Linked DNA regions of Homo sapiens. The protein of the gene in region 1 interacts with the protein of each later gene in a pairwise test. Each region holds a gene or a part of one and is shown in the gene's direction. Other genes may lie near its edges.

What was found.
Region 2: the proteins of RPTOR (region 1) and MTMR3 interact in binary tests that used the Homo sapiens proteins (3 or more experiments, as listed by UniProt).
Region 3: the proteins of RPTOR (region 1) and LARS1 interact in binary tests that used the Homo sapiens proteins (3 or more experiments, as listed by UniProt).
Region 4: the proteins of RPTOR (region 1) and RAB1A interact in binary tests that used the Homo sapiens proteins (3 or more experiments, as listed by UniProt).

The regions. Positions count from the first base shown.
Region 1 is NC_000017.11:80,918,637-80,925,963, forward strand, and holds part of RPTOR (regulatory-associated protein of mTOR), read left to right. Parts: intron 1-4,087; coding exon 4,088-4,191; intron 4,192-4,853; coding exon 4,854-5,037; intron 5,038-6,733; coding exon 6,734-6,844; intron 6,845-7,327. UniProt on the Homo sapiens protein: Component of the mechanistic target of rapamycin complex 1 (mTORC1), an evolutionarily conserved central nutrient sensor that stimulates anabolic reactions and macromolecule biosynthesis to promote cellular biomass generation and growth.
Region 2 is NC_000022.11:29,878,461-29,886,365, forward strand, and holds the start of MTMR3 (phosphatidylinositol-3,5-bisphosphate 3-phosphatase MTMR3), read left to right. Parts: upstream 1-4,713; 5' UTR 4,714-4,899; intron 4,900-7,905. UniProt on the Homo sapiens protein: Lipid phosphatase that specifically dephosphorylates the D-3 position of phosphatidylinositol 3-phosphate and phosphatidylinositol 3,5-bisphosphate, generating phosphatidylinositol and phosphatidylinositol 5-phosphate.
Region 3 is NC_000005.10:146,123,398-146,130,724, reverse strand, and holds part of LARS1 (leucine--tRNA ligase, cytoplasmic), read left to right. Parts: intron 1-566; coding exon 567-707; intron 708-1,606; coding exon 1,607-1,747; intron 1,748-1,942; coding exon 1,943-2,053; intron 2,054-4,179; coding exon 4,180-4,290; intron 4,291-6,638; coding exon 6,639-6,743; intron 6,744-7,327. UniProt on the Homo sapiens protein: Aminoacyl-tRNA synthetase that catalyzes the specific attachment of leucine to its cognate tRNA (tRNA(Leu)).
Region 4 is NC_000002.12:65,098,917-65,106,243, reverse strand, and holds part of RAB1A (ras-related protein Rab-1A), read left to right. Parts: intron 1-1,437; coding exon 1,438-1,510; intron 1,511-7,327. UniProt on the Homo sapiens protein: The small GTPases Rab are key regulators of intracellular membrane trafficking, from the formation of transport vesicles to their fusion with membranes.

The DNA.
Region 1 (7,327 bases):
CATTCTAGTTCTGCTAGCTTTCAGCCAGTGACTTCATGCCTCTCAGCTTGCATTTCTCCTCTATAAAACTTAAAACTGGGATCATTGTATGACTCCCACCCCCTAGGGCTGTGGTAAGAAAGGCAGAGCCCCGTCCCTGTGCTGCCTGGGTGCAGCGGGGGCTCCATACAGCAAGCTGCATCGTCAGCACTCGTGTCTGTGTCCTGTGCCGCCCAGGTGCAGAGAGGGCTCCACACAGCCAGCTGCATCATCAGCACTCATGTCTATGTCGCCATCAGCTCCTTGGCCATCTCACCATCCTCTGTGGAAAAGGGGCCACAGCAACTCCAGAACCTCCCGAGCCTTCCCACACACCCGGGTCTGAGGAGGGAAGGAGCTGGTGGGCTGAGACACCTCGGCCTCCACTGACGCGGCGTTCTCTTCCCGCAGCGCCTAGGACTGAGGGCACCGTGGCCCCAAGTGAAATTCCTTAAGGCTTCCTTTGTAACTAATGGGCATCTTGTTAAGAGTCACCACGTTGCTTTAATGGAATAATACCTAGGACTTACTTTTCCAAAAGAAGAGTTCGTAGGATTTATCTAGGAAACGCAGTTTGCAGGAAAATGACTTGAAGAAATAGCAGCACACGCTTTTGCAGGGGTTTCTTCTCCCCCACCAAGCAGCCAGCGGCCTCTGCGCTATTCTTAGCCCAAAAGTGCCTCTGGATAATCCTCTGGGAATCCCTTTTTAAGAGTTTCTCACACATGAATCCAGATCCTCGATATAAAATTAACAGGAACATTTCTGAAATACTCCACTTCCTCCCAAGATAGAGCAGCCAGAAGCTGACGCTGGCATCCGCAGCCCTGACTGTGTCAAGATCCAGTGGGAAAATTCACTGTCCAAGTCTCTGAAATGTACGGTATTTTCATCTGCATTGGATCAGACGCCCCCGTGTCCTTGTGAGGTGGCGCTCCCGGAACAGGAGACAGGGTGGGTCTCATTCCAGTCCCCGCTTCAGCAGCTGCAACAGTCGGGGGTGGATAAAAGACACCTGCACCTCCATCTTCCAGGCGTGTTCATGTGCGCACTGGCCCAAGAGAGTGTCTGTGCTGAGCATTCGACTGTTAGCAAAGTCGTATCTGCCACCACCGAAGGTTGGCTTGGGGAGTGGAAGAAAGGCCCTGTCTTGTAGCCGGGACCTTGACCCTCTTACAGCTGCCGTCCTCTCTGGACGCAGACCTCCCTAGAGGGCATGTTTGCACACCCTTGACCTCTGCAGGCTGCGAGTGAGCCGGGGCTCTGGGGGTGTACATGCTGAGAAGGGCGCCGTGTCCTCCAGGCAGGCCTGGGCCCACAGAGGCTGTGCGGGCCGCACTCAGCCCTCCAGTTTGCATCTCCAAACCCAGCCTCTGCCATTGCCGTGCCCTCTCTGTTCACCCTTCCTGGTGCTGCGCTCTCTAAGATGGTGGCAGGGACCAGCAGAAAGGACTCTCCCTGGTCCTCTGCCTTTGCCCCTGCCCCAGCCAGCTCTGCAGCTCCTGCTCGCTGCGTACCCTGTCCTCACACCGACACCGCAGGCAGGCAGGTCTGCCAGGTCACCTCTGAGGGACACGCTACTCATGTTCACAATCTTGGCCCCACACCCAGCGCAATCAACGCTGAGTAAATGTTGAACAAATAAGAAGTGCACAGCTAAAGAAAGCTCCCTCCAGGCCAACCCCCTGTGGTCACTACACTAATGGGGGTGGGGGGGGCTCCTGATCCAGGTGTGTGTCTGTCTCACGAGATTTCCAGAAGTGGTGGAAAATTAGTTTTGTGACAGCAGCCCCAGGTACAAGCCATGTGAAAGCAGGATGGTCTCATCTTATAACCCCAGGGGCTGCGAGAATTCATGCCGAGGCCCGGATCAGTTCCCTGCCTGGAAGAGTGGGCAGAGCAGAGGGTTCGTCACCACGGCTCCATGCGGTACTCCCACGGGCGCTTCCGTGCAGGGTGGCAAGGCGGGAGCTGCACAGACCCCAGGCGGCTCAGCGTGACGTCCCAGGGCTCCTGAGTCACCGGCCCCAGCCCAGCAGCGCCTGAGCCTTTGTGCTCCGTGAGCGTCTGAGCATGTGTGGGTTTTGCTAAAGGCTTCATTTCAACTCCAGAAGTTTTCTGTCTTCCCCGTCACCTCCCACTGTTTTTCCAGACATTTTGAGAAGGCACATATAAAGTTCACAGTCGAAAACTTGCTTTTCTCTTTTTAGACTTTTGAAGGGATCATATGTCTGGCAGGTTCTGTGGGATGGTTGTATGTGTCTAGGGCTGGCCGAATAGTTTAATACCAAAACAAAACAAGCTCAGAAAGAACATGTATTACTCTTGTCATTTAAAAAATAGGAACGTTGCTTAAAGACAAGTTATGGTTCCATTTTCTTGCTATTTGCGTTTTGAAGGAAAGGACAATCTGGGAAGCGTGGGTGTTACATGAGTGAAGACTTCAGGATCGTTTTGTTTTCCTTGGTGTTCTGTTGGCTGAATTGCAGGTTCAAGGTTCCTAAATTCTAAGTGAATAATTAAAAGCATGAGACATTGCAGGCTCCACGCGGATGCGGACCTGAAGGACAGGGTTCTGTCTGGCTGGAGCGCAGCCTGGGATGGGCCGGCGCTCAGGGAATGGCTTGTGCCTGCGGGATCAGTGGGCACCTTCATGGAGCAGCTGGCCCCATCCTCCTGACACAGATGAGGTTGCCCCAGCACCATCAGGCCCCTTCTGAACGCGCACAGCCTCTGGAGTCCAGAACCCAGCGGGACCCGCATTCCCCCCACTGAGCAGTGTACTCAGAACAAAACCACCCCGAAGCACCTGGGCCCTCGCGAGGTCATGTCGGTGGCCGGGCAGCGCACGCCCTGCCTTGCGTGGTTTCTCACGGCTGCTCACTAACGCCGACAGCTGGTCTCCAGATCCACAGAAAACCCTGCTTTAAAAAATAAAAGCAAAACCTCTTGCCTCCTGAATGCCAGGGCTCAAGCTGGTACAAATCTTTTTCTGTGGTAGAATTTCAAGCCCTGCAGGTGTCTGTGGCAGGAGGCTCTCAGAGCCCAGGGTCTTGGCTTCATCCACAGACGGCTGGGTTGAAGGGGTGGTTTGGAGCCTCATGCTGCCCACTAGGCTGTGCCAGCTGTGCACCACCCTGCTCCCCACCCTCCGGGAGCAGCCATCCCCTTCCCCTGCCAGTGCGCCCCTCCCCAGGGCAGGTTTCAGCCATGTCTGCCCTGGAGATGAAGGTTCCCCGTCCATGCAGTGCACCCAGCACCACCTGCGTGCGCCCGTGGGAAAGGATGACCACAGCCCCTCGGCCAGGAGGATGTTAAGGGCGGTCTTGAGTTCCAGGCCCCGTCACAGTCCAGGCAGCAGAGCCCATTTTGCCACTGGAGAGAGCCCAAGCCCCCTGCAGTCATTCTCTGACAGTTTCTGTGGCCTCCTGAAGCACACGGGGGTGTAAACAGTGGCCTGCGTGGAGGCCTCAGGCTGCTGGTGGCTTTCCACCCCGTGCCCACCGGCCAGGTCCCGGGTGGATGAAGCACTCCCTGACCCTCCGTGAATGCCACATCGCCCGGCTCCGGAAAGAGCATGGCTGGTGGATTCTTCCCGGGCCTCAACTCGCAGCCTCTGACCCGAGAGCTGAGGTGTTGGGGAGAATTGGACTCAAGGCTGGGACAGTGTGGAGGCCCAGCCTCAGGCAAGGGGGAGGACACTGAGGCCGCCAGGAGCCGCCCCTCTGGCAGGGAAGGTGAGGAGGGTGGGCCGTCATCCATCTCAGAGGCTTCAGGCCCTGACCCCTCAGGAGCCTCAGGCAGAGCTTCCTCCCCAGACATCCCGGCTCACACGGCCACGCCAGGGCTAGCCCAGTGGATGCATGTCCAAGAGTAAAGAATACCACTTGAGCTTCAGGATTGCCTTTGCGGGGGATCCAGCTGGGGCCTTCCATTGGTGTTGGTGCTTCCTCGGCCAAAGGCCTTTTCTGTGATTCTGAAGCGGCTCCACGCCAGCCTCTGCTTCGTGTGGCGGCCTCCGCGGAGCACGTCCCGTCTGACCTTCACACCCCCATTCCTTTGCCCCTAGGCCACCGTGAACGCCCGGCCGCAGCGCGTCCTGGACACCTCCTCCCTCACGCAGTCGGCCCCCGCCAGCCCCACCAACAAGGGCGTGCACATCCACCAGGCGGGGTAAGTGCCGCCCGCTCAGCCTGCAGGTCCGTGGTGGTGACCGGGGCCCCACGGGCTGAGCTGTCCCTGAGCCGGCCTCCCCATCCTCCTCCTTCCCCGCCCTGTCTTGGCTTCGTCTCCTCCCCCCTCTCCAGCGGGCGTTCTTTCCCTCTCCCTCCCGGACACCCCGGTACCCGCCTGATCTGAGCCCTGCCTTGAGCTCTCCCCATCTTGAGGAACCCTTCATGTGCACATCATCTCAGCAAAAGTTGAATGAAGCCTGGTCTCTGTGGCCTTTCAGAGTTTGTAAGAGGGGATCTAGATCTCCAAATGGGTAACCAACAGGTGTTTGCACCTCAGGACGTGGCACTGCTGTGTGCTGAGCTCGCACATCCCGGCCCACTCGACTCTGAGCTGGGTTCGTCCTGTCCGCGCCACCTCCCAGGGTGCTGGAGTTCAATGAGGGACAACCCTGCCCCCTGCCAGGCGGGCAACCGAGCAGCATGGACTCGGCACCAGCAGCTGGGGTTCGGGAGCCATGATGGCATGCTGGGTGACTGAGGACACCCCGGGCCCTGGTGGCACCTGGGAGGGTGCAGGTGGCCCAGGAAGTTGTTCCATGTTCCCTCTCGAAGCCCCAGACTCTGCAGAGGATGCAGTGTTTGTTTTTCTTCCAATGGCAGGGGCTCCCCTCCGGCGTCCAGCACCAGCAGCTCCAGCCTGACCAACGATGTGGCCAAGCAGCCGGTCAGCCGAGACTTGCCTTCTGGCCGGCCGGGCACCACAGGCCCCGCTGGGGCGCAGTACACCCCTCACTCCCACCAGTTCCCCCGGACACGGAAGATGTTCGACAAGGGCCCAGAGCAGGTACGGGAGCCCGGCTGCCTGGTGATCTGGACACTGAGAGCGTTGCTTCTCAGATGGGGGCTCATGGCCTCAGCCTCAGGCTGCTCACATCACCATGGGATGGGGCAGGACCCACCCTGCCGTCCTGGGTCTGTGGGCCACTCTCTGCCTTTGCAGACCCGGGTGCTGGTCCTCACTCGTGCACCCCTCTGCCTGCACTCCTTAGGAGCACTGCTGGGTGTGTCCCGGTCCCTCTGCCTGCACTCTTTAGGAGCACTGCTGGGTGTGTCCCGGTTCTCCGCCCCTGGTTCTGGTTTCACCATTCTGGGCAGCTTCCATGTAACGAAACAGGAGCACGGAGTTACCTGGCTCTGCCCTTCCTGGGCACACAGCACTCTGCGTCCGCTTGGGGGCAGCTGCACTGCAGAGCATTTGTTCTGAATGTGTTGTCTTTTCTGTGAACATCCAAGTACGCTGCATAAATAGGTACACTCTCTTTGCCTTTAACTAAGTTGAAAAAGATATTTCTGGAGAGAGGAATGCCTGCTTTGTTTTGCCAGGGTTATGAGAGTGGTGTGAGGTGGCAGCTGGTCCGGAGACCTCGGCTGTCTCGTCCAGGTGCTGCCACTTTGTCAGTTGAGGGCACCTGGGCTCAAGAAGGTGGTTCAGGGCGCACCCAGCACACCCAGCTGCTCTGGGTGCTGACAGCATGATCATCTCAGCAATGAGTGGGGTCCGGGGCTCGCTTGGTAATCCAGTGATTTTAAAAGAAGTTAGCGGCCGCCTTGCAGGATGCCCTGGAGCAGGAACGGCCATGTTGGGGTAGAAGAGCTGTCACGGCAAGAGCGGACAGGTCCCCACAGGTGCTGCTCAGCCCCAGCCCACCTGGACTTTCCGTGTCTCGGCAGAGGAGGAGCGAGAATCACCACCGAGCCCCAAGTGCAGGGTCAGCCTCCTGGCCAGGCCCTGGGGAGCAATGCTACCGGCACGTGCAGCTCACCCACCCGACCCCCCGGGGTGGGGGGGATGCACCTCTCACTGCACCTGCCCTGAGATCATGGGGAGCTCCCTGTGCCAAGACACAGCGTGAGAGACGCCAGCAGGCCACATGGCGTGGCACAGGAGACCCCTGGTGCCCAGCCTCACTCCACAAGCACACACAGACTCTGACAGCCCTGGCCGCCACAGGTTCCACAACAGGAAACACCCAAAGCTCAGTCCTCCTCAGCTCCACATCCTCTTTCTCCAGTAGCTGGGAGCTCCAGCCGGCCTGCAAAGCTGTGCGCTCCGTCCAGGCCACTTCACATGGGAGTCCCCGCTCTCAGTCTGGTGTCACGGGGCCATCACAGGAGCTGTCCTGGAACCAAGCGGCAGAGGCTTTTTGGGGGTTGATAAACCAGCACACATGGACGCACGTGGCATTGTCTGAACAGTCAGTTAGAATTGACTTGGGAGCTGTGCTGGGTCGGCCCTGGGGATGGTGGGACCGACGTGGCTCACACTTCACAGCCCGGGCCCCTCAATCCCTGGCCAGACGTTCAGGGGTTCTTGGTCACCAGGATACGGAAGTGAGCAGAGCACAGAAGTGCCGTCCTTAGGGGCAGCCCGGTGCTCCCGGCAGCGCCTTTGTCCCCAGCTGCAGCTCTTTTGAGCTCAGGAGTGGCATGACTGACTGGTGTTTCTTTTTCCTTCCAACCCTCCTGCTTAAACCCTGAAGACTGCGGACGACGCGGACGATGCTGCTGGACACAAAAGTTTCATCTCCGCCACGGTGCAGACGGGGTTCTGCGACTGGAGCGCCCGCTATTTTGCCCAGCCCGTCATGAAGGTGCGCCCGGGGTGTGGGGTTCAGAGTAGAGTCCTAGCGAACATGTGTCTGTCCCACTTCTTTGAGCATAAACGCTCAAGGCTTGTGGCTGTGGGAGCGTCCCATTGTGGTCGTGGTAGTGATGGTCACGGTTGAGGTAGAACCGCAGAAGAAACAAACTTCACTTACCTTCCTGTCGCCAAACGAAAAGAGAAAACCTGCCTCGCTGGAGCTTCCCAGTGTGACAGGTGTCACTTTGCCTTAACTGACAGGGTCACCACAGGCCTTCCCACTCCCTAATGGTGAGGATCACTCGAGGCCCATCCCAAGGCCACGCTTGCGTGGCTCCGAGGTCTGGGGACTGTTAGACGCAGCCTGCTGCAGCCAATCCTAGCGCATTTGGGGTTACACCACAAGACCATCTCTGAGGCTCAACCCTGACACAGCCCTAACAAGCGCCGTGTGCTGTGGACGCAGTGGCTGTGTTCCTGCAGGCTGGGGCAG
Region 2 (7,905 bases), on another chromosome or scaffold:
CTCGCTCTGTTGCCAGGCTGGAGTGCAGTGGCGTGATCTCGGCTCACTGCAATCTCCACCTCCCAGGCTCAAGCGATTCTCCTGCCTCAGCCTCCAGAGTAACTGGGACTACAGGCGCGTGCCACCACACCCGACTAATTTTTGTATTTTTAGTAGAGACAGGGTTTCATCATGTTGGCCAGGATGGTCTCGATCTCCTGACCTCATGATCCACCCGCCTCTGCCTCCCAAAGTGCTGGGATTACAGGCGTGAGCCACGGAGACCGGCCAACATGAGTTAAGTAGGTTAGTGATTACCACCCTAGAAGGCGATGAGGAAACTGACGCATAGAAAAGGGAAAAGAGAAGCAGATATGAGGAGGCGACAAGATTCAAATTTAAGTCTTTAGACACAGACCAGCTTTCTATTGAGTCTCCTTAGGCCCTTCTTCTTGAGGTGAGTTTTCAAGGCCATGCTGCAGTTTTCTCTTTCTTATTTATAAATAATTTACTAAAGTCTGTCTTAAAGGTAAGCAAGTGGGCAGCAGTGGTGATGAGGTGTAGTAATGAAGTTGACAAGCATGAACTTGGAGTCAAATCTTCTGGGTTCAAATCCTGACCTTTACACTTTCTTATGTGTAAAATGGAGGACAGTAACAATACCTTCCTATAGTGTTGTTGTAAAGATTACATTACCTTTAAATTTTATTTTATTTTATTTATTTCTGAGACAGAGTCTCGCTCTGTCACCCAGGCTGGAGTGCAGAGGCACCATCTTGGCTTACTGCAACCTCTGCCTCCCGGGTTCAAGCAATTTTCCTGAGTAAGCAATTTTCCTCCGGAGTAGCTGGGATTACAGGCACCTGCCACCATGCCTGGCTAATTTTTGTATTTTTAGTAGAGATGGGGTTTCACCATGTTGGCCAGGCTGGTCTCGAACTCCTGACCTCAGGTGATCTGCCCGCCTCGGCCTCCCCAAGTGCTGGGATTACAGGTGTGAGCCACCGTGCCCGGCCTAAGATTACATTAGATATACATGTAAAGTGCTCGTATAGCGCCCGCCACAATTGAAAGGTTCAATCCAGCCAGTTGCAGTGGTGAATACCTCTAGACCCAGTAGGGAAGCCGAGGCAGGAGGGTTGCTGGAGCCGGGGAGTTGGAAGCTGTAGTGTGCTGATATCTGGTCGGTGAATAGCCACTCACTCCAATTCATGTTAGCTATTATGAAAATGAGAAGGTGCAAATAGTGTGATTTCATGGGCATAGAGAAATTCCTCCTATGTCCCAAATACTGGTTGAAGATTCAATTGAAGATTATTTAGCCCAGATTAAAAGGCAAACACGATGACATTCCGTCTAAAAAGAGGTCAAAATTACAAGCCATCTCCTTCGCTCTCCCATGGTGAATTGGGGAGCTGTGGGATTGGTTGAGTGTATGCTGACTGCCTATTGGCAGAACTCTTTGCCCTGTGCCTTCTCATTGGAAGCTAGGTGGCCTATGGGTGGGCTGTCCTGGAGTCAGGTGCTAGCTTCAGTCCAATCAGAGGCCACCAACCTGTGGCAGTTCGTCCTATGGCCTTTCCCTGAGCAGATGACTGGTTAAGGGAATTTCCCTGCGGGGGGGCTTAATGGCTGATGAGAACCTTGGTTTATCAGACAATGGGAAAAACAGGTTGGAAAGTCCTTTTTTTTTTTTTCTTAATTTTTAAAGTTTAAGGCTGGGCGTTGTGGCTTACCCCTGTAATCCCAGCACTTTGGGAGGCGGAGGCAGATGGATCGTTTGAACTCAGGGGTTTGAGACCAGCCTGGGGAACACGGTGAGACACCACCCCCACCCCCCGTCTCTATGAGAAATACAAAAGTTAGCCAGGTGTGGTGGAGCACGCCTGTAGTCCCAGCTTCTCAAGAGGCTGAGGTGGGAGGATGGCTCGAGCCCTGGGAGGTAGAGGTTGCAGTGAGCAGAGATCCAGCCACTGCACTCCAGCCTGGACAACAGAGTGAGACCTTGTCTGAAAATAAAATAAAATATAAAAATAAAAAGAGGCCGGGCACGGTGGCTCATGCCTGTAATCCCAGCACTTTGGGAGGCCGAGACTGGTGGATCACCTGAGGTCGGGAGTTCGAGACCAGCCTGACCAACATGGAGAAACCCCGTCCCTACTAAAAATACAAAAAATTAGCCGGGTGTGGTGGCGTATGCCTGTAATCCCAGCTACTCGGGAGGCTGAGGCAGGAGAGTCGGTTGAACCCGGGAGGCAGAGGTTGCAGTGAGCCAAGTTCCCGCCATTACCCTCCAGCCTGGGCAACAAGAGTGAAACTCTGTCTCAAAAATAAAATAAAATAAAATAAAATAAAAAAACTTTAAATCATTCATCAATTTTAGTATTTACTGTTTCTTCTCCCATTCCATTAAGCCTATAGTCAGTCATAGAACAGAAAGGGAAAATCAGGGCAGCCACATATAAATACAGGTGCAAAGTTGAGGCAGGAGTGGACCCTCAAGGGCCAAGAAGAGGTCATTGCTGAGCTTCACATTTAGCCCTGGGCTTTCTGGAAGCCAGAGTGAAAAGAGAGACACAATCAGATGCGTAACAGTTATCAAAAAGCAGGAAGCACACCGGTTTTTCTGGTAGTAAAGCAAGGGCTTTCCAAGCTTTTAACTCTAAAGTAATTTATTTCGTTCTTTCTTTTTTCTCTCTCTGACACCCAGATTGGAGTGCAGTGGCACAATCAGGGCTCACTGCAACCTCTGCCTCCCAGGCTCAAGCCATTCTCCCACCTCAGCCTCTCAAATAGCTGGGACTACAGGCGTGCACCACCACGCCTGGCCAGTTTTTTGGTATTTTTTGTAGAGATGGGATTTCGCCATGTTGCCTAGGCTGGTCTCGAACTCCTGAGCTCAAGCAATCCACCTGCCTCGGCCTCCTAAAGTGCTGGGATTTCAGGCATGAGCCACTGCGCCCGGCCTAAAGTAATTTCTTACTTGAGATTTTATTTCAGGCTACTGTGTCCATGCACTGGGCAGTACAGCCTGGTGGGTAAGACAGCACAGTATTTTTTTTTTTTTTTTGTCTGCTGGGTTTGAATTTTGTTTTAATACACGCAATTTATTCTGTGCTTCACTTTCTTCATCTGTAATATGGAGATAATGGCATCTACCTATTAAAGTTGTGAAGATTCAATTAGATGAGTTGTATGAATAAATGTTAGCTGTTAGTTTAGTTTCGTTTTTTTGAGACGGAGTCTTGCTCTGTCGCCCAGGCTGGAGTGCGGTGGCGCAGTCTCAGCTCACTGCAACCTCCGCCTCCCGGGTTCAAGTTATTCTCCTGCCTCAGCCTCCCAAGTAGCTGGGATTACAGGCGCCCGCCACCATGCCCAGCTAACTTTTGTATTTTTAGTAGATCCGGGGTTTCACCAAGTTGGCCAGGCTGGTATCGAACACCTGAGTTCAGGTGATCCACTCACCTTGGCCTCCCAAAGTGCTGGGATTACAGGCGTGAGCCCCCGCGCCCAGCCAGCTGTTAGTTAATCAAGAAATTCGACTGCCTACTACTTAACCTGCACAGTTCTAGGTGCTGGGGAAACAGTGACGAACAAGACAAGATCCTTATCTTCAAGTAGCTTTTACATTTTAGTGGAGTAAAATGACAGTAAACATTGAAAATAAATTTCAGAAAGTGCTGTGGAAAAACTTTACAACAGACGCAGGAATAGATTTCATTTGACTAGTTCTCCCAGTTTCCAGAAAAGTCAAGGGTAGAATGTTAAAAGGCAACTCAGAGGAGGTGAATCTGTTAGGGCCTACGGTAATGCAATCCTGGTTTGTGGAATTCTGCAGGCTAGTGTGGGTAGGTTACAATTTTTTGGGGGAGTTGTTTTTTACTTTGTTTGAAAACTCACTTCTTCCCGCTGAGCTTTTGATTAGGAGCTGAAGTTGAATCAGTTTGAAATTGTATTCTGGACCGGATGCGGTGGTTCATGCCTGTAATCCCAGCGCTTTGGGAGGCCGAGGTGGGTGGATTGCTTCAGCCCAGGAGTTTGAGATCAGCCTGGACAAAATGGCAGAAACCTCATCTCTACAAAAAATACAAAATTTAGCCGGGCATGATGTTGTGAGTCTGTAGTCTCAGCTACTCAGGAGGCTGAGGTGTGAGGATCGCTTGAGCCCGGGAGGCAGAGGTTGCAGTGAGCCGAGATGCCACTGCACTCCAGCCTGGGCGACAGAGCCAGACTCTGTCTCAAAAAAAAAAAAAAAAAAAAAAAAAAGAAAAGAAAAGAAAAGAAATTGTATTCTGAATACAACTTCTAAAACACTATATTTACTTGCATTATATTAAACTGGTTTTATCCTGACCACAATTGCAGGTGGAAGATACCACTATTGTTCTATTTTTCTGGTAAGTAGAGTGAGCCATGTCTTGCCCAGGGTTACAGAGCTTGGAAAAGACGCCTCCTAAAAATCTGTAGGACCACCTTTGGTTTTCTTCCAGATTTTTTTTTGTCATCTCTTTTCCTCCACCCATTTCCCATCTGTCTAGCCATTCTTGCTCCGCTGGGCTTTTTCGCGAGCCTCTCCCCAGCTGCAGCCCCGCCCATCTCCTGGGGCGTGACCACCTGTCCAGGCCCCGCCCCCGTCCAACCGGCGGAGACCCGCCCCCTTTCCCGGACACCGGGCTCAGCGCCCGAGCGTGCGCGCGCGTCCTCGCTCGTCGCCCGGCTCGGCGTCGGGAGCGCGCTCTGTGTGGCCGCTGCCGCCATGTTGTTGTGGTTGTGAGAAGGCGGCGGCGGCGGCGGAGTAGCAGCCGGACGAGACGTCCCAGCGGCTCAGGCGCTGCCCAGCGCCGGCCCTGGCAGGGAGCCTGGTGGGGTGGCGGAGGGGGAGACTGTGCCGTGGAGGGCCTCGCCATGTCCTGCTGCCCGGTAAGAACCCCATCCCCGTCCTCCGTCTCCTCGGCGGGTGAGGAAGAGCTGGAGGAGGGGCCGGCCTCGGCCCCGGCCCTGGCCAGGCGGCTGTCACCCTCTGAGGAGGCAGCGCCCTGGGAGGGCTGGGGACTGCGTGCGGGGCCCGGGGAGGGGCGTCCCCGGCGGCTGTCGCCGCCAGGGGGAGGCGCTGGGTGTGGGAGTGGGAATGGGAGCTCGGCGGCCGAGCTCGGCCCGGACCCTAGATGCGGGGGAGGCGGGGTCCCGGGCTCGGGCTGCCTTCCCAGACCTGGCGGGGATGGGCCCGTGCGGCTCTGGGTGTGGGACGTACCCTCGGAGCGCCCGGAGTTATTCCCACGAACTCCCGGGAGGTGGGTGTGCGCCCTTCGCCCCCTGCCGGGTCTGTGGCGGTCCATCGTTGCCGGATACTGGAGGTCAGGGGCCATGGGAGCCCCGGGGCGAACGGTGCGGGCCTGGGCCTTGTGGAAAGGAGGAGTGACCGCCCGATCGTGCAGCAGGGCATCCCCCTGACCTGGTAGTACTTAGGTGGGTAGGATGATTGGGGGCGGTTGGCGTAACTGAGGGAACCCTGGTCAGACTGCTCCGCAAATGATTACAGTGTTATTTCTCCGGTAGTAATTTTGCTTGATGTATGGCATTTCCGGACCCATAAGATGATACTGTAGGTTGTATTTTGGACTGGAAAACTTATGTCAAAATTATGGGGTAGATTTTTTGGCCACATTAATAGACTCCCCTGGAATTTGATAATCTCACTTGTGAGTTTTGGACATGGACTGCTATTACATATTGATGTTCAAATGTCCTTTCCAGACCCAGGCCTAAATTCTTACTGTTGTAGTATCTTGATTCTGACATCTATTTTTCCACAACCCAAACAAACAAAACAAAACAAAACAAAACCCCAAAACCATATACTTTTCTAGTTAAGGTTCAACTTTCTCATATGTGAATGGTAATGCCATAAGAGGCCTGGGTTGAATTACAGGAGATTATTATTATTTTTTTCAATGTGAAATGTTTGTGATTTGTCCATGGAGAGGTGGTGGGGACCTTCCCCTTTCAGATTCAGGGCTGTTCAGTAGGACAGGAGACATTGATGGCATGCAGAAAGTCTTCCCTTTATAGGGCCTATGACTTGGGTAGGCTAGAAGAGCTTACAGAATGACACTTTTTTTTTTTTTTTTTTTTTTTTTTTTTAAGACAGAATCTCTCTCTCCCGCCCAGGCCGGAGTGCAGTAGTGCGATCTCTGCTCACTGCAACCTCCGCCTGCCAGGTTCTAGCAATCCTCCCACCTCAGCCTCCCAAGTAGCTGGGATTACAAGTGTGCGCCACCACGGCTGGCTAATTTTTGTATTTTTAGTAGAGACGGGGATTTCACCATGTTGGCCAGGCTGGCCTGGAACTCTTGACCTCAAGTGATCCGCTTGCGTTGGCCTTCGAAAGTGTTGGGATTATAGGCGTGAGCCACTGCCGCCAGCCAGAATGACACTGTTTTGAGTAAACCCAGTATAGTATGTGATATTAAATTAAATTTGGAGGATTCTAGAATTTTAGATTGGCTGCCTATGAATACCTCTTTTGGCTCCAATTACTCCCTCATTTTCAGGTGACTCAGAGAACTTCAAGTGACCAGCACAGTGGTACAGCCCCGCTTGTCGTTAATGACCAGCCATAAAAAACCCTGAGTTTCTCAGCTCATAGGCCAGGTTCTTCAGTGGTTGTCTAGTTTAAGGCTGGTCATTAGAAATATTATGGACTACCTAAATTCCTCGAACTCATGCAGGACCTGGTGAATTAAAATCTCTGAGGATAGAGCCTGGGGATCTGTCCTTACAAAGCTCCGTGAATGATTCTGGTCAGCAAGGCATGTGAACTTTTGCTTTAGGTTGGGTATTCCAAAGAAGTCCCATTAATTATGACTTCTCAGGGTGCTTTTGTTTATAGATCTTTAAGAATTTAAGAGGTGGAGAAGGGGAAGCATGAGAAACTTAAAGAGATGCAAATTGAGCATCTCTTAAAATATAATGGATTTATGTAGGGGAAACAGATTTGTTGCCAAAAGTTAATTTGCAAACAAGTTATTAGGAACACACTTGATAAAATTAGATGCTGATTAATTGGAGATATACTGTATCCAGAGATATATTGAAGGATCCAGAGGAAATAAACAGAGAAGGAGAGGGAGTAAGTCGGCTTCTGGCTCATAAAGGGGTCCACTGAAGATGCTTCCCACCATTATGGTTGCTCCTAAACCATCTGACTCAGATTTCTAGTGGAGGGTAGGATGGGTGTGTTAGCAATCATTTGAGACCCGGGTTGTGAACCAGGAAGGGTTACTATGTATTGTGAAAAGTTCTTGAGATTTGCCGCAGGCCATGAGGAGTGGTAAAGTCAGTTTAAAAATCTGCTGTAGTTCTAGTTAACACGTTCACACCTTCTTCAGTAAAGTGGAATGCTGTTACCAAAGGAAGTATTCGTGTTTTAGAGGGGGGTGTGGTGAAGGTTCTTACAAGTTTGGAAGAGGTGGAAGAAAATGTTGTTACAATTGTGTAGAGTAGTGAAGGGCTTTGGTAAATATCCTGTCAAATCATAGAGTAGTATTTTTAGAGTTGCACCCAGCTGTCCATTAGAAGAGCCAGAGGCCTTGTCTGTTTTGTTCCCTGGTGTCCCCAGTATCCAGCGCAGTTATCCGCATATTCTGTGCCCTCAGATATTTTTTAATTAAGTGAATACTATTGATATGGGAAAAAGAACAGTTATGGTGGTTTATAGCAGTGTTAGTTATTAAAAGCTACCTGATATTTTGCAATGGATTAAAGAGCCAATTTTTGATCAAATAGGGCTCTGGGTAGGAAAGAAAATGAAAATGAAGAGCCAGCTTTCAGTGCTTATTGTTTGGAATTTTTGAGATTCCTTTAAGAAATTGTTTTCTAAAGACTGTCATGAACATTATCGAGTCCCCTAGTTTTTGAGTCTTAATG
Region 3 (7,327 bases), on another chromosome or scaffold:
TGATAAAAACAAAGGCAAAATTGTAATTAATTGCCATTAATTTGAGAGCAAGCGTTTTCTGAGGTTTTCCACAAGGTGTCAGTATTTCCTCAAGTTTGGCATTTAAAGTGCTTAAAGTAAAAATGTAGCTTTACGCAATGAGCTGTGTAAAATATCACATTGAGTTTTATATAACTTGGTTTTCAGAGTTGTGGTTAAATAAGGATAAATGGCTGGGCATAGCAATGTGTTGTATTTATAGTCTTTTTTTATATTTAATATCCTATATGCTGCTAAGAGCAGTCACCCTTAATATACAGTTAAAGTTGTTCAACTTTTATGTCTCAGTTACAAACTGTCTGTAAAAAAATTCTTTTTTTGAGAATTATTAGTATAAAACTGCCATATACTTTGGACAAAGATAAATACTTGCAGATTCTTAAAGTAAAACCTTTACAGTAATTTGTTATGGATTTTTAAAAGACTAGAAACTTAAAAATGTGTTAAAACCAAGATACTGCAATTTTTCCCTTTATTTTTATTTTAAAGAAGGTGAGGGAAATGGTAAATAATTTCAAATTTTATAGGCCGCAAAAGATAAGTACCGTGAATTGGCTGTGGAAGGGATGCACAGAGAACTTGTGTTCCGGTTTATTGAAGTTCAGACACTTCTCCTCGCTCCATTCTGTCCACATTTGTGTGAGCACATCTGGACACTCCTGGGAAAGGTACCTTCATGCATTTAAAATGTTTCGAGTGGTTTTGATTTTGGCTTCATTAAATAAGTGTTGTGCTAATATTGTTACTTAAGAGAGAAAGTCTGAAAGTGAGTAATTCAAGAGTAATGCTGGATTCAGCATCATAATTATGACGGGTTAAACCAGAGCTATCTCCTATTCAGATGGATATATGTGCCCTTATTTATATACACAACAGTGCATACATATTTTTAAAAGGTGAAAATATTGAGAAAGATATAAACAATTGTTATGAGCTGCTTAAAAACAAAGATATAGGTGTATATTTGTGTATATTTGTGTAAGTATTCTTGTTTTATATAAAACTTCTGGCATATATAGGACTTAATATTCAGGGATAGTAGCATTCTTACTATGAATATAAATTCAGTTATTTCTCCCAGGCTTACAGATAAATAGATTGGCTGGTTTAATAACTCCTTTCCAGCCATATTAGCTAGGCTCTTTTGTATTTTTAAATGCATGAACAATACAGAAATGTGCTCATGATCTATATACCAAATAACCGTACTTGAATACTGGATGTATTAGCAGGATAAAAACTGAGTGTATGCATAATTTATATAATAATGATTAAATTTAGGCAAATTAGCATTACATAATTTTCTTTGAAAGTGAGCATATGTGTGTGGGTATTAATATGCTTGTACAAATGGATGCTAATTAAGAATGTAGAGTCAGACTTCACAGCTTGAATTCTAGGGAACATTAGATCAGGGGCTGTGCAAGTGTGTTATGTGTAGTCAAGTTTGAACTCTGAGCACACAATTACAGATGGTATCCTTGGTATGAAACTATAATCAAGAACCGTAAAATAGTTATATTGTCTAATCTCACTGAAGGTTTTTTTGTTTTTCTTTTTTTAAAAGCCTGACTCAATTATGAATGCTTCATGGCCTGTGGCAGGTCCTGTTAATGAAGTTTTAATACACTCCTCACAGTATCTTATGGAAGTAACACATGACCTTAGACTACGACTCAAGAACTATATGATGCCAGCTAAAGGGAAGGTAAAGTTTTTTTGTTTTTTTTTTTAAAGGATTATTCCTTAAAAGTTATTGATCAGATAACATTTAACAATAATGAAAGTTAAAAAGATTTTCATTAATGGTGAAGACCGTGGTGGTGTATGTTGGGGGAGGGTTCTTCTCATTTTTGGTTTATATAAAAGCTATTGAATGTTTTTCCTTTCTTTTACCGTCTAGAAGACTGACAAACAACCCCTGCAGAAGCCCTCACATTGCACCATCTATGTGGCAAAGAACTATCCACCTTGGCAACATACCACCCTGTCTGTTCTACGTAAACACTTTGAGGTGATGCTCTCAGTAGACTTTTCCCCCCTGATGGTGTTGTATGCTCCCTATGTTGTTTTTGTTTTTAGGATGTTGGCAATGTCTGGGAGAAGAAAGATAGGCAGCTTTGTTTCATTCCCTCTAGGCAGACAGCATCCTTTTGTTATTCTTGGTGGCTCTTAAATGGATGCTGAGGGAAAAGCTGCTGTTTTCCTCTCATTTCTGAAAAATTTATACAAAAATACATTGGATCTAGTTGAATGTAATCAAAAGAATTGGGGGTTTTCATATGTGTAGTTGAAATGATGAAATAAAAGGACAGAGTTTGCCTTTGGAATTTGTTGTAACTTGAGCAGTGGGAGTCATTCATTAAATTTATTCATTCATTATATTCATTCATTAAATTATTTCAAATCGTAACCTTGTTTATTGTTTGGAAAAAAGTGAAGCTTTGTTCTTGAGTACTTTAAATGTTGTTTGGTTTGATAATTACCTATAGAAATGTAGAGCTTGAAGACATTTTTGGCTGTGCCAGGTAATGATAAATCCACTTAAAGGGAACTCAATAACTTAGATCTAAGTTTTCCTGAAAGAAAAAAATGTATTTTTCCTCTGCATTCAAAATGTAGAAACAAAGTATGTTTATGAACTTTGGCTTTTTTGCTTAGGTTATTAAAACAGTTATTGCTAGATGCAGACCACTAAGGTGCACTTTAAAAAGAGAGACAAAATACGGATTGTGGTCAAAATGTAAAGAAGAAACGTAAAGGAAAAATTCTTAGCTTTGATATTCTAGACCATTATTGGAATTTTGCCTCAACACTTTTCATAGTTAATTAAGAAATGCTAAGAAAAGCTGCTTTTACATATGTAAAATTTGATAGAGAAGAGCAAATGTTTTTGTATTTCTTGTGAGTCTATTTTTGTGGAGAACTATTTCCACCTTTGAGTATATATGATAGAAATAGAAGGTGGCCTTTAGAATCTGCTTGCAGATTTTGAATTAAGGTAAATAAAAGATAAAAGCTACTTTGGTTGGCACAAAAGTGAAACTACCTCAGTGGATTATATATTCATACCAGCAATTTCAAGGAAGCAGTGGAAGAACCCAAATATAATATGTAATGTCTTAGGTATTAAAAAATGCATCACCTCTGTTCTTTTTGAAGTTGTTTTTTTACTTACTATTCATTTGCTAGATAATTGAAAACAGTGGTATCTTTTGGCATTAGCAGCTGTCTTTTAGATTTTTGTATGTTTTCATCCACAGGAATGAAAAGAATGTTCATTTATAATCACGAAGAGTGTTCTTATGTTGAATGTGGCACCATTTTGGTGACATAAGGCAAAGGAGTGTTTCCCACCCTTTTTCTTTTTCGTGTGTTTCAGAGGAATATATTAACAAGTAGAATATTTTTTTCCCATGTACTTTAGTAAAAGTTAGAATTGAAAATAGATTATTTGAAATTGTATTATATGTTCCTTTTCATTTAGATTCATTCCCAACCCTTCTTTTACAATAAAGAGAAAACAAGTTGCCCAAAACTTTGAAAAGACCAGTTGCTTTATTTCTCACTCTATTGAGGGGACCGTTAATATTTGTAGAAAGAAATGAATTTAGATTCATTTAAAGCACACTTGGATTGTACTCATCAGTGATATATGATATGGACATTTATTTTTGAGTAGATAGAAATGATTCTGTTTTTAACAGGTCAGTAGCTAGGGATTCTTTTCACAATTGTGGTAACAGTTTCTTCCAAGTGTCCAAAAGCAGACATTATATAAACTTGTATGATAGTTGTGTAATTTTTTATTTTAATATGACTAATAAAATGCTTTTAGAAATTTGAAAACAAGTTTTTATGAGACCATTTAGTTTCTGAACAGGAGAAATATTCAACACAAATCACTTCTTTTTCTCTTCTAAACTAAAAAGTATGTGTTGTTAATTTATAGAGAATAGGAGAGTTCCTTCTGCATTGTTCATTGAGCTTTCACTTCCCCGTGATGCTAGGGCTGGACACTTTTCTGCTGTTCTCTAAGGATTGATAGAGGCCACCATTCTATGCCTGGTCACATCTACTGTTCTGCCTTATTCTTGAGACTTTTTTTTCTACATTACTCTCCCTCCTTCCTTTTCTTAGGCCAATAACGGAAAACTGCCTGACAACAAAGTCATTGCTAGTGAACTAGGCAGTATGCCAGAACTGAAGAAATACATGAAGAAAGTCATGCCATTTGTTGCCATGATTAAGGTAAGCTGTGGACCTTATGCAGCTGTGACCACATGAGCAATGGTTAGATGGGACAATAGAAGGATGGGGAAAAGCCTTGGACATAGTCTCCTGCCAGAAATCTGCTAAAATAGCACTTTTCAATCAATGACTGAGAGAAATGATCTATCAGATTTTGGGTTTACTTGTGGAATTGCTGAGTATGTGAAAAATATTATTGTGGGAGAAAAATTGGTTTAGAATGGCTGCACTGAACTATTCCCTTCATATTCTACCTTCCCTTCTTTCAAACTCTTTTGGCTTACATTAGGCTTATAGAGGCTTGCATTTCCTAGACCCTATTCCTGGAACCAGGATTCAACATTTGTATAGGTATAGCTTAACAGGGTAAACATTGGTTATAGTGGTTAGACCAGGGTGTCTCAGCATAGCTCTGTTGGTATTTTGGGCTAGATAGTTCTTGTGGGGCACTTTCTTGTGCACTGTAGGATATGTAATGGCATCCCTGGCTTCTACTCATTAGAAGCCAGTAGAACTACCTTTCCTGCTAGTTATGACAATGAAAAATATCTCCAGACATTGCCAAATGTCCGCTGGGGGCAGAATCACCTTCCACTTCTTACCATTGAGAATTATTGGGTTAGACCCTTAGTTTTCTTCATATACGTCGCTGATGTATTACTGGATTTCTTGACAAAAAGAAACCGAAAGAAGGCTTATATTGCTTAAGATCGCAGGCTATGGGGCCAGAAAAATCTTGGTTGAAATTCTGTGTATCAGTCACTCCTTAGTTTTGAGACCTTGGACAAATCACTTAAATTTTCTGGGCTACAGGATTTTTCATCCATAAAATGAGGATACTATAGAACCAAACTTTTTAGGAGTGCTGTGAGGAGTAAATAAAATAGTGTACCTAACACACTTAAGTAGCACTAGTCAAGAAGTAGGCTCAGTAAATGTTGTTTAAAAATACAAATTAGTATCTTCCAGCCTACTAAGCATATTGTAGTTATTCTTGTACTGTCCTTTAATTCTTGTGTCTTCTTGGCTGCAGATGCCTGATGGAGACCAGACCTCTTAACTTCTTCAATATTATAATAGATTAGTATTCTTGGAAAAGGTTTTTAATTCTCTTAGACCAAAGTCACTATTTGATCCTCAGGGTATTTTAAGTTTCAGAAGTAATTTAGAATCCTGTGTTGACCTACACTAATCAAGTTGTAATGTAAGTGCTGGTATGTTCATAGTTCGTTGGTTCCCCAGTGGCTAGTGTCATTGGTCATAATGCCAAATCTCTGTCAACATGTGGATCCAACAAAATATTCCATTGATGGTTGCAAAGGCAATTAATTTTGATGACATGTTTTAAAAGAATCCAGGGAAACCTATTTGAAAAGTAGTTATGTGTATATGTATATATATATAGAGTGTGTGTGTGCGTGTGTGTGTGTGTATAAAATGATATTAGATTCAAGAGTTGGCTTCTTTAGGATCTCATTTAAATTTGAAGAACCAGCATCAGACCGTTTGAGTGGTAATATATTTTTAAAATTATGTTGGTGATTTGCCAGGCAAATTAGTGGTTTTGCAAATTTTGGAAGGGATTAATACATCTGGGAATAAGAAAATGACTTTCTAGCACTTCCATGAGAAAAAGAAATAGAACTTGCATAGTAAGCGAAAACAGTGAGTAGCAGGAATAATATCAGGTCACTTTCATTAAGTATAACATGTTCTAGGTAGTTATATCTGCATATGTACTTGGATCTCTAGGATTCTATTTTGCACAGCAAATATTGACTACCCAAGAAAATTAAGAATAAGAAATTATTTTTTACATGCCATGTTTGAGTACTCATGTAGTATGAGTTTTTTTTCTTTAAACTTTGCAGAAATATCTTTGGGGATTTTTTGTTTGGATATTATTAATTCACTATTCTCTGAAACAGCTTTAAGAAGGTGGTATCTCAGAAAATTAAAATTTTGTTTTTTTTGGGTAACTTAAAGGGATATTTTCACACATTTGGCTGATTCCCTGTAAAGTGAATTCTTTGGGCTTGCATGTTAAGTCAGTCTAAATAAACAATCATAAAACCGTATTTATTTTATAAATCTGAAAACCTTGTGCCTTCCCATCTTTTCAGTGCTGCCATAATCTTATAATACTTTAAAAGATAATTATTTGGAGCTAGTAAATTTCATTAACAAGCAAATGTAGGTAAAGGAAATCATGAGTCCAAGGCCTTTCCTTTAACTCCTGAAATCTGAAGATTTTATCAGTTGAGAGAAGAATGATTACTTTGGAGGAAGTATGTTTTCCAACATATTCTTACTGTGATTTTGTTTTTCCATACCATTTTGGCTATTAGGAAAATCTGGAGAAGATGGGGCCTCGTATTCTGGATTTGCAATTAGAATTTGATGAAAAGGCTGTGCTTATGGAGAATATAGTCTATCTGACTAATTCGCTTGAGGTAAGAGGGCCAGGGATTGTAATAACCAGTTAACTGTAGTTAAACCATAATCCAGCTCTTTTATTTTATAATAAACCTTTTTATAAATTTCATCTTCTGTGTTTAGTATCTTTGTTAAATATATTAGTCGAAAATATTTTTGGAGAGAAGAAAAATGGGTGAGTATAAAAGTTGCAGGAAAAAAAGTGATATGTCATCTTATTTCATCAATTCTTAATTTACATATAATCAATTATACATTAAAAAACTGTATATCTGGCTATTCTACTGCAAATTATTTTTAAGAGACCTTATATTCAAATGCTTTCCAAGCCTCTCATGTTATGGAGTACTCTGAATTGTTGCCTTTTTTCCCCCCTCCCTTTTGATTTGCAGAATTGGATTAATTATAATCTTTGGTTTAGAATTGCTGCACTGATATATTGGTTCATGATATATTATGGTTCATGATATATTATGATTTGGTTCATGATATATTATGATTGTTCCATGTCTTGCCGTGTTTTTTTCCTCCCAATTTATAATAAAATGAACATCCCTGAATTTTCTACCCAATCCAGGAACTAGAACAGTACCAATAGCTT
Region 4 (7,327 bases), on another chromosome or scaffold:
CTTTTGAAATTGCTTAAAAGAATGCATAGAACTGGTGTCTGAGTTGGGAAGGATCTATGAGGGATTTCCTTGGAGACTGTGGGTGAATAATAATGTTGTCTTAGTTCCATGAAGGAATCTCTGGGGATAGTTTTTGAGTTAGGCCTGGCAATGTTAGAGATACATAAAGAGAGCCTTGTTTTATCACTGGGTGCGGTGGCTCACACCTGTAATTCCAGCACTTTGGGAGGCTGAGGCGGGCAGATCATGAGGTCAGGAGATCGAGACCATCCTGGCCAACACGGTGAAACCCGTGTCTACTAAAAATACAAAAATTAGCTGGGCGTGGTGGCGCATGCCTATAATCCCAGCTACTCGGGAGGCTGAGGCAGGAGAATCACTTGAACCAGGGAGTTGGAGGTTGCAGTGAGCCGAGATCGCGCCACTGCACTCCAGCCTGGGTGACAGAGCAAGACTCCGTCTCAAAAAAAAAAAGCTTGGTTTTCAATGGTTCTGAAAAATGCTTTAATACAAGTGTAGAGTGTTAGTCAAGTTTTGCACTTGGATAAACAGCCTGTGAATTTATCACATTTCTAGTTTATAATATGGGCTTTCAGAAGTTATATGAACATTGTTTTGACGGGAGAATTCAAGCTGGATGCTAGAGAAGGATCGTGAGAACCCCTTCATTGGAGGAGTGCTATGAAATTATTTGATCTTGGAATTTTTTTTTTTTTTTTTTTTTTTTTTTTTGAGACAGAGTTTCGTTCTTATTGCCCAGGCTGGAGCTGGAATGCAGTGGCACGATCTCGGCTCACTGCAACCTCTGCCTCCTGGGTTCAAGCAATTCTTCTGCCTCAGCCTACCAGGTAGCTGGGATTACAGGCATGCGCAACCATGCCCAGCTAATTTTTGTATTTTTAATGGAGACGGGGTTTCACCATGTTGGTCAGGCTGGTCTTGAACTCCTGACCTCAAGTGAACTGCCTGCCTCAGCCTCCCAAAGTGTTGGGATTACAGGTGTGAGCCACTGCGCCTGGCCTGATCTTAGAATTTGAAGGAGAGACTAATATTTCATGGGCAAAAACAATGAAAAGTTACCTTTCTGTATTCTAATACTATAGAGGAGTGGGATTTATTTAGAATGTTTTAAGTATCTTGGGCAGTCCAAGAGTGCGTATCACTTATTTTTCTTTTCCTTCTTTCTTTTTAAGTGGAAGTTCACTGATGTTAGAGATCATAGGTGGCATTGCCTACTTTTTACATAATTTTATCATGTTTAGTGATCTGTCAGAAGGGCTGTGGCTGTTTGCAGTTTTGGCTTAAGCCATGCATGGGCTTTATAGGAGATGTAGTCTTCACAGTGAGTTGTTATTTGTAGCTGTGTTTTTGTTTTTGTATAGCTTATAGCAATGCAGTGTGCTTTTTATTAACATCATTTTCTTTTTCTTTTTGCAGTGATTATTTATTCAAGTTACTTCTGATTGGCGACTCAGGGGTTGGAAAGTCTTGCCTTCTTCTTAGGTTTGCAGTAAGTTGAAATTGAAATGTCTTTACAATTAATGGTACAATTAATGCTATGTATGTTTTCTAGGTAGATAAAATTAAACAGTTTTATTCAGAATAAGTTAATTCTTCCAGAATTTATATATTTAAAGACTCCAAATATACATCCCCAGTGGTATCTTGGACTGTTAAATAGAAAAATATTGTTGCTCTTAAAAGAAATTCAGTGAAGTATGGTTATAAAGTCAGAATGTCTAATACTTTTGGTCAGAGTCAAACAGCAGTTCCAATATAGGCAGCAAGTTAAAGGGGTAGTTGGTGGCCTGTGTTGAAAGCGACTTGATGAAAATAAATCTTTAAATTAAACTTTAGTAGAATAAGAAGAAAAAGCAGAGCCAGGTGACGCAGTGGATCATGCCTGCAGTCTCAGCTACTCAGGGTGCTGAGGGTGGAAGGATCACTTGAGTCTAGGAGTTTTGAGACCAACCTGGACAACATAGCATGACTCTGTCTCTGAAAAAAAAAGTTAATAAAAGAAAAAGTAGGGTCTTGGACAAACTTCGTTGGCCAATGGCATAGTTCTAAATGCTGAAGCTGACAGATAAAGGACTTTTGACTTAACAGAATCCACAGTGTCCTTCATAGTCTTTATCAACTACCTTTAAATTTAGCATGTTTCCTGGCCAGGTGCGGTGGCTCACGCCTGTAATCCCAGCACTTTGGGAGGCCGAGACGGGCGGATCACAAGGTCAAGAGATCGAGACCATCCTGGCTAACACGGTGAAACCCCGTCTCTACTAAAAATACAAAAAATTAGCTGGGTGTGGTGCCACACGCCTGTAGTCCCAGCTACTCGGGAGGCTGAGGCAGGAGAATCGCTTGAACCCAGGAGGCGGAGGTTGCAGTGAGCTGAGATGGTGCCACTGCACTCCAGCCTGGCAACAGAGCAAGACTGTCTCAAAAAAAAAAGAAAAAAAATAAAAAAACAAATTAGCATGTTTCCCTTCTAGAGATCATTGTTTCTCAGAGCATGGACCAAAGACTCCTGGGGGTTACCAAGACCCTCTCAGGTAGCCCATGAGGTCAAAATATCCTAATAATACTAAGATGTTAGTATTTGTAAGGAAATATTTACTTGGTAATAATACTAATATAAAAGATGTTTGCGTTTTTCAGTGATGACATTGGCTCTGGTACAAAAGCATGTGGGTAAAATTGCTGCTGGCTTGGTACACATCAAGGCAGCGCTAAGCTCCAAATTGTACTCATGGTGATGGCATTCTTTACCTCTGTGCCCTCACAGGAACAAAAACAAGCCGTGCCATTTTTATTGAAGATTGTCCTTGACAAAACAGTTAAAATGATTAATTTTTGAAAAATGTTGATCCATGAGTATTCCTTTAAAAATATTTGTGAAGAAATGGGAAGTTCACATAAAACAATGTTTTTTTTTTTTTTTGAGACAGATTCTGGCTGTGTTGCCAAGGCTAGAGTGCAGTGGCGTCTGGCTCCCAGGCTCAAGCTGTTCTCCCACTTCAGCCTCCCAAGTGGCTGGGACCTCCCAAGTGGATGCGCCATCATGCCTGGCTGATTTTTGTATTTTTTTGTAGTGACAAGGTCTCACTGTGTTGCACAGGCTGCTCTCAAACTTCTGAGCTCAAGCGATGCATGTGCCTCAGCCTCCCAAAGTGCTGGAGAAAGCACTTTTTACTGCATACTGGCTAGTGTGTTGGTTATTTTGGAGAAAAGAAAAGCATTTGTAGTTTTTTGAGTTGTAAGCTGAGCTAACTGCTTTATTTTTTTCTGTGGAACACCATTTCTTTTTTTTTTTTTGAGATGGAATATTGCTTTGTTGCCCAGGCTGGAGTGCAGTGGCACAATCTCGGCTCACTGCAACCTCCGCTTCTCGGGTTCAAGCAATTCTTCTGCCGTAGCCTCCCAAGTAGCTGGGATTATAGGCACCTGCCACCAAGCCCAGCTAGTTTTTGTATTTTTAGTAGAGATGGGGTTTCACCATGTTGGCCAGGCTGGTCTCGAACTCCTGACTTCGTGATCCGCTTGTCTCAGCCTCCCAAAGTGCTGGGATTACAGGCGTGAACTACTGCACCTGGACATTTTTTTTTTTTTTTTTAACTTGAAAGAACAGCTAACAGACAGATTAGAACAGAATTGGCTATTTGACAGATTTTCTCAGATGAACTGTGATAGTCATTTCAAGGGAAGTAGCTGCAAGCATTTGTTGGCTGAAATAAAATTTAAGTTTATCATGGAAAATTAGAATTTGAAAAAACTTAGAGTTTACCACTTGACAGTATCCTAAATACATATGACTTTTCTGATGAGTGCCGATATTAATGAAGGTTATTTAAAAAATATTAAATAATGTATAATTCTTTTTATATAACAGTTAAAAATAAAACCATGAGTACTAGAATAAAACATAGGTGGCTCTTTAATCTTGGTTTGTGAAGGTATTTTTTAAAATAAGAAAAAAGCAAGAAATCACTGCTAAATTTGACTATTAAAATTAATTTATCACAGGCACAAAAATGTTAGAAAACTAATGGCAATAGCAAATATATATATATGAGGATTGGTATTCTCAACATATAAAGCACATTTGCACATCAACAAGAAAAGAATATTTCTCCTAATGGAAATAGTGGCAAATACATGAGCAGTCAGTTGAAAAAAGAAGTAATACAAATTGCTGGCTGGGTGTGGTGGGTCACGCCTGTAATCCCAGCATTTAGAGGCTGAGGCTGGCGGATCATCTGAGGTCAGGAGTTCGAGACCAGCCTGACCAACATGGAGAAACCCTGTCTCTACTAAAAATACAAAATTAGCCGGATGTGGTGGCGCATGCCTGTAATCCCAGCTACTTGGGAGGCTGAGGCAGGAGAATTGCTTGAACCCAGGAGGCGGAGGTTGTGGTGAGTCGAGATCGCACCATTGCACTCCAGCCTGGGCAACAAGAGCGAAACTCCATCTCAAAAAAAAAAAAAAAAAAAAAAAAGGAAGTAATACAAATTGCCAATAAATATGGAAAAAAAAAAAGGCTCAACTTTATTTGTAATTAAAGGCCTTTAAGTTAAACTTAGGTGTCATTTAATTTTTATTAAATTGGCAAATATTAAAATTAAGCATAATTCTTAAGCAACTCTCGGTAGGTGGGAAGAATCTAGCTGTAGCCTCAGGCGTTTGTGCCTCAAGGAAAACCCTCTCTGGGATGTCCATTGCTTGAAGTCAAAGGTTTTCCAATAATACCTGGAAACTATTTTTAAAATGCTGATCCCCATACCCTCAAAATATTAATAGAGACAATCGTGAGGACTATAATAAAGAAATGTGCAATAAGCTCTGGGGGCACAGAGGGAAGAATCTATTGGCTGAGGAGTTGAAGAAATTGTTTGGACACTCAGTATTGCCTGAGCTCAAAACTGAAGGATGAATAAATGCCACATGACCTTGGGGCTGGGGAGTAAGTAGGGTTATGCAGAGAGAGATAACTGAGGCTTTTGGGCAGACGAATAGTAACGGCTCAGGCATGGGAGTAAAGGTCATTTAGAGATTTACAAGAATTCAGCATTTCTTTCTTTTTCTTTTTTTTTTTGAGATGGAGTCTAGCTCTGTCATCCAGGCTGGAGTACAGTGGCATGATCTCAGCTCACTATAACTCCCACCTCCCGGGTTCAAGTGATTCTCATGCCTCAGCCTCCCGAGTAGCTGGTATTACAGGCGTGTACTACTGTGCCTGGCTAATTTTTGTATTTTTAGTAGAGATGGGGTTTCACCATGTTGGTCAGGCTGGTCTCCAACTCCTGAGCTCAAGTGATATGTGCACCTCTGCTCCCCAAAGTGCTGGGATTACAGGCGTGAGCCACTGTACCCGGCCAAGAATTCAGTATTTCTATCCAAGTACCTGGGGGATAGATGTGCTACATGAATATTTATTGCATTCATTTTGTTCTCTGCATTTTTTTTTTTTTTTTTTTGGTTTGAGATGGAGTCTCGCTCTGTCGCCCAGGCTGGAGTGCAGTCGTGCAATCTCGGCTCACTGCAGCCTCCACCTCATGGGTTCAAGCGATTCTCCATCTTGGTCTCCTGACTAGCTAGGTTTACAGGCGTGTGCCATCACACCCACTAATTTTTTGTATTTTTAGTAGAGACAGGGTTTCACCATGTTGGCCAGGCTGGTCTTGAACTCCTGATCTAAAGTGAGCCTCCCACCTTGGCCTCCCAAAGTGCTGGGATTACATATGTGAGCCACTGCGCCTGGCCTCTATATACTTCTATAGTACCTGATACTTATTAGGCACTCAATTACAACATAACTTTTTTTTTTTTTTTTTTTTTTTGAGACAGAGACATGCCTTGTCGCCTGGGCTGGAGTGCAGTGGCACAGTCTCGGCTCACTGCAACCTTCACCTCCCGGGTTCAAGTGATTCTCCTTCCTCAGCCTCCCGGGTAGCTGGGATTACAGGCGCCCGCCACCACGTCCAGCTAATTTTTTGTATTTTTAATAGAGATGAGGTTTCACCATCTTGGCCAGGCTGATCTCAAACTCCTGACCTTGTGATCCACTCACCTTGGCCTCCCAAAGTGCTGGTATTACAGGTGTGAGCCATCATGCCCGGCCCATATTTCTAAAAACATTTTCTTATAAAATGACATTGCCATTATCAACCTGCAAAATACAGTTTCCATTTGGTTGTTTTCTTGCTTAGTCTTTTAATCTAGAGTTTTATACCTTATCTTTTTTATTTATATATTTTTTATGTCATTGACTTTTTGCAGAAACTGAAGCACTTGTCCTGTAGATTGTCCAATATTCTAGATTTGTCATTTTGCTTCCTTGTGATGTCCTTATGCTTATTTGTTTGTCCCTCTTTCTGTAATTAGAAGACCTAGAACTGCACTATCCTTAGAGTAGCTACTAGCTCTATGTAGCTATTTAAATTTAAATTAATTAAAATTGAAAAAGTTTGGTGGCTCACACCTGTAATCCCAGCACTTTGGGAGGCCAAGGTGGGAGGATTGCTTGAGTGCAGGAGTTCAAGGCTTCAGTAAGCTACGATTGTACTCTAGCCTGGGAGACATCAAGACCCTGTCCCTTTAAGGGGGAAAAATAATTGAAAAAATCAAAAACTTAGTTTCTTGTTTCACAAGCTGCATAGGGCTAATGGCTACCATATTGGCTAGCACAGCTTATAGAACCTTTCCATTGTCACAGGAAGTTCTGTTTGGCAGTGCCGTTCTCATTAGACCTGATTCGATTAAGGTCCATCTTTGTTGACAGAGTACTTCTTAGGTGGTGCTTTGTGGTTCATATGATGATAGCCTGGTCTGTTCATTCATATATCTTTTCACGAGAAATATTTTTATTCCATTCTGAATAAAATTTCATGGCAGGTACTTGCAAGAAGCAGTTATAATTTTAAAAGTTTAACATTAGGTTAAAAAATTGACAGGAAACATATATTCACAGGAAAACTTGTACACAAATGTTCATGGCAGCATTATTCATAATAGCCAAGAAGTGGAAACAACCCAAATCAATTTATGAATGGATAAAATGTTGTATATTTGTAGTACATGTAATATTATTCAGCCAATAAAATGGGCCAGGCATGGTGGCTCACACCTGTAATCCCAGCACTTTGAGAGGCTCAGGCAGGGGGATCACTAGAGGTCAGGAGTTTGAGACCAGCCTGACCATCATCACGAAACCCTGTCTCTACTAAACGTACAAAAATTAGGCAGGCGTGGTGATGCACGCCTGTAGTCCCTACTACTCAGGTGGCTGAGTCATGAGGATTGCTTGGACCCCGGGAGACAGAGG